Linked DNA regions of Homo sapiens. The protein of the gene in region 1 purifies or fractionates together with the protein of each later gene. This does not show direct contact. Each region holds a gene or a part of one and is shown in the gene's direction. Other genes may lie near its edges.

Evidence for each region.
Region 2: the proteins of CELF2 (region 1) and A1CF purify together in Homo sapiens (affinity purification with western blotting; one study listed by BioGRID). This does not show direct contact.

What each region holds. Positions count from the first base shown.
Region 1 is NC_000010.11:11,016,477-11,020,671, forward strand, and holds the start of CELF2 (CUGBP Elav-like family member 2), read left to right. Parts: upstream 1-1,395; 5' UTR 1,396-1,613; coding exon 1,614-1,687; intron 1,688-1,795; exon of another isoform or gene 1,796-1,999; intron 2,000-2,021; exon of another isoform or gene 2,022-2,052; intron 2,053-2,279; exon of another isoform or gene 2,280-2,388; intron 2,389-4,195. UniProt on the Homo sapiens protein: RNA-binding protein implicated in the regulation of several post-transcriptional events. Involved in pre-mRNA alternative splicing, mRNA translation and stability.
Region 2 is NC_000010.11:50,812,339-50,816,370, reverse strand, and holds part of A1CF (APOBEC1 complementation factor), read left to right. Parts: intron 1-91; coding exon 92-365; intron 366-2,308; coding exon of another isoform or gene 2,309-2,332; coding exon 2,333-2,514; intron 2,515-4,032. UniProt on the Homo sapiens protein: Essential component of the apolipoprotein B mRNA editing enzyme complex which is responsible for the postranscriptional editing of a CAA codon for Gln to a UAA codon for stop in APOB mRNA.

The sequences.
Region 1 (4,195 bases):
AGGTCTGATACTTTGTATTGCTCAATGCATCAAACTGGATTTAAAATTGATATGTAAGTGTCCATTTGCCTTCATAACCTCTAAAGATAGTTAGCTGTCATCACACAAGAATCTGGTGAGAAATAATTAAAATCATATTTTGTCTATATCATGTCTGATACATTTAACTATTTGTAACTTGGTTGTTTAACCCTCTGGTTTGTGTGATGGTATCCTCAGGCATAATTTGTGAGGAGAAAGCCCAGCTTCCTAGCACAGTTCTGATTTTTAGAAAGACAAAGACTGAAAATTACATATTTCAAACAAAACCATGTGTGTGTGCGTGTATGTTTGTATAGGTATATGGATGTATAGCTGTATAGACACATACATTACCCTAAAAGTTTAAGATGTCATTACAAAATCAAGTGAAGGTTTCTCTAAGAGGTAAACTATAAACTTTTGGTACGCAATTTATGATGTTGATTCAGAATGTGAAATATGCCATGAAGTCTTACATACTTGTGACTACACTGTGAAAAGTTTGCCACCCACATAATCAACAGTGAGAACGATCAATTAGAATGTCACCTTAGAAACGAATTAGTTTTCCAGAACTTATGCAAATCACTTAAAAATTAAACTCGCCAGCTTCTCTGTTTTTTCTGAGTTTGGCCATTTTTCTCAATTCTTGTTAGTAAATCAGTCACAAATCTTAAGTGGATATTTAAGCTTCATGGCCCTTACATTACAGACCTAACACTCGTGAATTCACTCAGCTGGTTTCTAATTATTGTGTTAAATACTAGGAAATGGCAGATTCATGATTATCGTTTGTGTAGAAAACGTGATTTATGACTTTATTTTCAGCCGCTTATACTTCTTAGTGTTTGCAAGATGACAGAAAAGGCAGTGCCATCGTGCAGAGACAGGTTTGTCTTCCTTAGGGCACTGCGATAAGTCCCTAAATGTCACTTGGGTCATAGATCTGATCTTTATTTTGCCTAAACCTCCTATATCCTTTCGGTGATCGCCCTTAGTTCCTGCCCGGGCAAGCACACCACACCGAGGAGCATCGAAGCGAACCCTCGGGCTGCTCGCCTCCCGCGGCTGGGCTCTGGGAGCGCGGCTCGGGTATGGAAGTGGAGCGGGCTTTGGCGCCTGGGTGGCCCTAAACCTACTCCGAGCGGCCACGGCGGCCTCTTGCCAGGGACCCCCGGGCGGGGGAGCAGAGCCAGGCGGGGAGCGGGTTTGCCTTCGGGGGCCCAGGGGACCCTGAGAAGTCTGGCCGTGCCCGGGCGGTGAGCGCGGAGGCGGCCCGCCCTGTGTCCCCGCGGGGCGGAGCCGGGTTCGGGGCCGCGCTCTGGGCCGGCGGGCCCGCAGGGGTTAAGCGGCGGCGGGCGCCCCGCGAGCTCCGCCCCCGCCCGCCGCACCTGGCGCTCGGCAGCCGGCCGCCCCGGCGCTGGATTTCGGAGGGGATTGGCGGAGCGCGAGGAGAGAATGTGACAAGTGCCGGCTCGGCGGCCGCCGGGGGAGGCCGCGCGCACCTGTCCCTGCCCGTCTCGCGCCGCCCGCGGCCGCTCGGACGCGCGCAGAGCCGCCCCCCGCCGCTGCCGCCGCGTGCGCCCGCGAACATGACTTCTGCCTTCAAGCTGGATTTCCTCCCGGACATGATGGTCGAGGGCCGCCTGCTCGTTCCTGACAGAATGTGAGTGGCGCCGCGTCCCGAGGCCGGGCGAGCGGGCGTCCTCCTCCCAGAGTCGGCGGCGCGAAGGGGACGGGCGTCGCCCGCAGCTCCCGGGCGCGACTCGGCCGCTTCGGATCCGTCGCCTCCCTCGGCCTTCGGAGGCCGGCACGGGACGCGGGAGGAGGGAGCGGGTGCGGACGAGCAGCGCCGGCGGTGCAGGGCGCGGGGCTTCCCGGAGGGACGAGCGGAGCGCGGCGTCCCGGGGACCGGGCGGGGTCCGCGAGTCCGGGTGAGGACCAGCGGGCCGAGCGCGGCGTCCCGGGTCCCCGCGGGGTGAGTGGGGGACGGGCGGGGTCCACCGACCGGCGCGAGGACCCGCGAGCAGGGTGAGCGGGGCGCGGCGTCCCGGGGTCCGGGCGGGGTCCATGAGTCCAAGTGGGACCGGCGAGCCGGGCGCGGAGTCCCGGGGTCCGGTGGGGCGGGCGGGGACCGGGCGGGGTCTGGGGGTCCGGGTGAGGACTGAGCGGAGCGCGGCGTGACGGGGACCGGGCGGGGACCGGCGAGCGGGCACGGGGTCCGGGCGGGGTGCGCGCGTGCGAGTGTGCACGCTTGTGTCATTTGAAATGCGGGGCTGACGGAGCTCTGGTGGCCGGGGGGAAAGAGCTCTTCTTACCAAATTACCCGCTCATCTGATTTAATATTTGCAAAGATCCTTTCCTAAGGTGGGAGAGGGGAAGCGGAGACAAGGAAGGGCGGGGGGATAATTATAAAGCGTGAAACTAGCCAGGTGTACTTTATTGCAGAAATTAGAGGTAATTTTTACGTAATCATGGTTTGTCTGATATGCAGTCTGTAATTTAATAATTAATGTGATTCTGGTTGTTTTACATGTCGTCAAACTAAGGTAGAGCGTTTATTGGAAAGAAGTAGAGAGCTGGGATTCCTGAAGAAAGGAAAGTATGTCTAATTTTTAGCTGGCTTGATAGGAAAGTTTTTATTAGCTCGGAGGGGTCAGTAGGATCTATTTGTATTTCAGGCATGTTAGGAAAAGGAAACCTAAAAAGAGAGAAAAGATTGCCAGAGTGGGAACAAAAGGTCTGTGTCCTTTTTCGACATTTTAAGTTTTCTCTGATCAGGCGAGAAATTGGATAGCGGATCTAAGCTGTAATTAATCTAATCCAGTGAGAAAAAAATGGATTGGTATGGTAAGAGTGCGTGTAAAATGTTTCCTGTTCTACCCACTGTAGGACTTAACATCCCTATTCTGTCTGGCACCTTATGGTACTCTGCAGTATTGAGGTTATTCCAGGCTTTATGATCCATTTCCCTGGCAACTAACTTTCCCCTGCCATGCTAGATTCTTTTTCTAGCATGTTAAGTGTTATGAGTTAAGAGATTCTTGAGAAACTCTGCAGTGGCCAATTATTTGAGCTGCAAGGACCTCCCCACCAAAAAAAAGGAGGGGGGTGGAGGAGGGGGATGATAGAATCTGTTATGCAAATTGTCTTTTGAGTCAATATTAAGAATGTTAATTTGCTTGTACACGATCAGGTTCATCTTTTCCGTATTCTGTTTTGGTAGTTTTCTCCGAGATGTGAATCATGATTAGTAACATTTCCACGATATTTGTTTTAAGAGACCTCTGTCCTGTCCCCCATCTTAAAATATATACCTGTATAGACACGTAATACATGTTTGCACATGAGCTAGTATGAAAGTTTTATGCGTTTTCTCCTCTAGAGGCTAGAGGGTCCAGGCTAAACTGAAGAATTCGCCTAATCATGATTTTGAATTTATGGTCACCTGCTACTTAAGTGACCATAATATAGCTAAGCTGATGAATGCTCTATGAATTTAAAGTGTTAATGGCCTCAGAAAGATGCAGTTTCTTGTCAATTAAATTATGAATTACAAAAATTTAATTTATCCTTTTCATTTGGTGGATGAATGTGGCCTGTTCAAGCGATTTGCTCTGAACTGAGCCCTTGTGCCTTAGCCATGGAGTCTCCTATGAAAATCCTAACGTGACTTCCACCTCACTTCTCTTCCAAATGTTAGTTATTTCCAAATGATAGCCTTTGGAATCAAACCCAAATTGTTCTCAGCGTTTGTCAGCTGTTGCTTAATTGAACTAAGGGAAGAAAAGAGGATTTGTAAATGATAGTTTTATTATTTGTTTCCTAAATAGCTATTGTGTGTCTCCATAGCCCTGAGAACACTAGAGCATGCTTTTATATATCGTTCATAATTAACTCACATTAAATACTGTATCTGGGGATAGAGGTGTGTGGGGGGGAATATGACAAGTTGAAAATGCCTGAAATCCGCCTAAGTTGTAAGTTTTATTGCCATATTCACCCAGTTGAGAAGATAGCCATGCGGATTTATTGTTTTAGGGACTGGTTGTCATGTGTGGTATATTGCCATTTGGACTAAATTGCAGTCGGCTAGATATTGGCCTGTTCCTAAAAGGAACTTAAATAAAGCATAGGGGCTTTTCTGCTGTTGATTTTTCTAAAGCAGTAGAAT
Region 2 (4,032 bases), about 40 Mb from region 1:
ACACTTAGAAGGAGTCATGTTATTAGGGCTCAGCCACACTTGGTTATCTTCATATCATCTCGCGTTGATATTTCTTTGCTCTCTACAACAGGTGCTGGATGGTTCCCCCATTGAAGTCACCCTAGCAAAACCAGTGGACAAGGACAGTTATGTTAGGTATACCCGAGGCACAGGTGGAAGGGGCACCATGCTGCAAGGAGAGTATACCTACTCTTTGGGCCAAGTTTATGATCCCACCACAACCTACCTTGGAGCTCCTGTCTTCTATGCCCCCCAGACCTATGCAGCAATTCCCAGTCTTCATTTCCCAGCCACCAAAGGACATCTCAGCAACAGAGCCATTATCCGAGCCCCTTCTGTTAGAGGTAACACCAGTCAGATCTTGCTTTAGAGTAATCCCAAGATTTCAAATGACTCAAATTGCAGTAGCCTTAGATACATTGGATGGGTCCACTTGGAGAAAAGCACTGAAAAATTGTTTATTAAAAATCAACTATTATATCAATAGTTTTCCTTTAATAGGAATCTTTTTCACATTACAACTGGTTATTGAAAAAACGTCATCAGAACATTGTGCAAATGAGCCTAGTGCACAGATTCAAACTTTGCATGGGCCCATAAAATTTGCACAAACTAAAACCTAGTTCTATAATTGTTAGCTTCTTCTATATCACTTGTCCACCACTGTGTAGTCATCTGTGGCTCATTACAACACTTCTGGAATAGACTAGTATAGTCCAGTGGAAACCAATTACCTCAAATAGCAAAACCCTTTCAAGGCATGTGTGTATTTGATGGTGACTCAGTGGCATTGTCTTAATATGTAAATCACAAATTATTATAAATATAATCTAACAGACATATGAGATGTTCTCATCTGACCTCCTCCAGGAAATATGTTATACTTTCTTAGAAGCCAAATAATTAAGGACATTACTATATTTCTTTAATACATGGAGAACTGAACAACAAATAGAAAAAAAACCCTCAATCAGACTGCTAATAAAACAATAAATATTTCACATTTGAATCCTGTAAGAATTCTAAATGTTTGAGCAGTTTTCCAAGCTCCATTTCTTCAAGAAAGCTAGAAGATAAAGAAAGCCTTTATTCTATTTCCAAGAAACTAGCTTGTCCCTGTCTTTTTGGCTCCTTCAGATGAGTTTTTCTAGGATGTGGCTAATGCCAACTGAATCCCAGTTCTATCCTCCAAATACGACATGAATCTGGGCAATTCGATAAACTGTGCATTTAAGTCTATTCTTGGGTTTGACTTAGAAGCAAAAAGGCACATCTAGATTACTGTGGAAACAATTATCTTACTATGTTTTACTACTTTTCAGTATAACTAAATTGATCATATTAGGAGCTCTAGTCTTCAACAGCCTTAAAAGTTTCATACTCATAATTACTTGCCCCAAAATTGTAATGCAAATGAAATAATCAAGATTTCCTTTAAGGTAACTTGTCTATGTGATAATAAATTATATCATTGCAACATTATGCATTTAGAATATAAAATCACCTCATTAACCAATCCATACATTAAATACAAATTGTCAACCAGTTATGATGTCGAAAAAAAACAAACTCCACTATAAGGGAAAAAATGCCTATCTTATAACAAGAAAGGAATCAATGAATGATATTCATGGATGAAGGGTAATCAATTTAATTTTTTATCTCTATGCCACCAATATAAAATCAAAGTAGTAACATGGCAAAACAAAAATCAAAAGGAATCTATGCATGAAACTCAATGGAAATTTAAGCCTCACATTGACCGAACATCAGAGAGCATGGTGAACCTAAAAGCATGCTTTCTAAATGTTTGTTTTACAATAAGTCATTGGAAGTGGGATAATTAGGGAAGCCAGAATTTATTTCTGATATACTGATCAGTGACAGTCTCTATGCAAGACTGATTTCAAAATAAGTGGTCGCATTATGTTGGAATGTTCTAATAAATACATTCCCAGTCTTTATTAGTCTGTATAAAATATCAAGGTTACCTAAAGACAAAAATTGCAAATTTTCTATCCCAAAATTTTTAAGTTGTTTGTGTACTTATCAATAGTATTGTATTTATCAATGGCATTGTTTTCTTCTGAAGGTAGTTTTTCAAAAAAGAGAGACACCTATGTTAAACCTTACCTTATGTTGAGTTTCATTACATTAGAATCCTAGAGTCTCCCACCCATCTTCAGGGCAATAATCAACGTGAATTGGGCTAACTTTTCCATTACAGTAAGATTCAGGGTGATTTTCTGGTGGTTTGATTCAGTTTAATGCCTTCTTACGTTCCTAGAAATTTACATGAATGTACCTGTAGGGGCTGCGGGAGTGAGAGGACTGGGCGGCCGTGGCTATTTGGCATACACAGGCCTGGGTCGAGGATACCAGGTCAAAGGAGACAAAAGAGAAGACAAACTCTATGACATTTTACCTGGGATGGAGCTCACCCCAATGAATCCTGTCACATTAAAACCCCAAGGAATTAAACTCGCTCCCCAGGTAGGTAATGTTATTCCAGAAATAGTTTCTTTAAGTTGTGCCAATGAGCATCATTCACTTTTATCAAATGATTTGACTTGATCCCTACTCAAGCTATGGGTTTTTTTCTTTTAATATATAAAGCATCCAATGAATGTCACAGTCTTTGAAGGAATGCTGGGCATCTGGTGCCATTATTCTATTATAGGTCCTTTCTCTTTTTTAAAAAATCATAAAGTCTAACACCTTGAACAATATTCCACTGAAATGCAAAGAATCTGAGAGCTATTAAGAATTATCAACCCATACCCGAAATGAGGCAAAGACCCCATCTCAGAATAAATGCCTATTGTATGTGAGCCAGGTTGGCTGGCAAATGAAGAGTATTATGGCAGTGCCCTGAATAGACCATTTAGGACATCTTTTCTTGGAAATACTGTATCTAAGAGAAAACTCCACCATGATATCTGGGTGAATTATTAACTATGAGATGTCATCAGTCATACCAAATTAACTCTTCCTCCATAGTTATATTTTGGCAGTGGCATTACAGAGAGTTTTTACTGTGTTCATTTAACAGTTCTAAGTTTCCACACTTCAACATTAACCTGTGGTTTTTATTATTGGAAAATTAAAAGCTATAAAAGTTTCAATATGGAAACTGACTCCCGGGGTTAAAAATAAAACAAAACAGAGTCTATGCTAACCCTGAGACTGTTCCCTGTGGGAGTGTGATAGGTGCTGATCTCTCTGAAATACATTTTGGCTGAATAATCAGAGTTACAGTTTGTGTATCTTGAAGGAAACTTCCCTATTCCCATGACAAAGGTGGGCTTATAGCCTCACATTTATGGAAGTAGCCCTTATAATTTCAATCCAGAAGAAAACTGGTTTTCTAAAAGCTCATCTTGGGTAATTTTTTAATGGGATTTCTGGCTTTCTTTTATGCACAAATTAGCTTATCTAAGGTTTCTGCTAGCCCCACCCAGGGAATTTTAAAAAAAATGCCTATCAGACTGCTAAACAGCAATCATTTGTTCACATAAGATTTAGTAAACTTCTCTTATGCACCATGTAGTGCGCTAGGTGCTGGAGATGTAGAAGTGAATATAACAAAATCCTTATCATGAAAAATTAGATGGCAATCCAGTGGGAAAAAACTGACACGTAAACATATAATGAAATCTGGAAGTGATATGATGAAGTTTGTTCAGAAAATATAAAAGCCACTCATCCAGTTTCTCTTAGGTTAAAACCCAAAACAAAAAACCTGATTAAAGTACTGGAATACTTAGAAATATTTTAAGAAAATAAAAAATAATAGTCGCAAATTCTGTATAATAATAGTTCCGAGAGCTGCAATAGTATGAAAAGAGATCTCTTCATTTTACATTAAACTCAAGTTAGAAATTCATCATGTCTTTTATTAGTATGTGAGTAACAATCTCTATCAATTAATAAAAGTTCTTTAATTTGTGTCTGACCTTCTACAACTATGGCTTAGAAATGAAGACCATGCCACCACCAACCAACACAGAT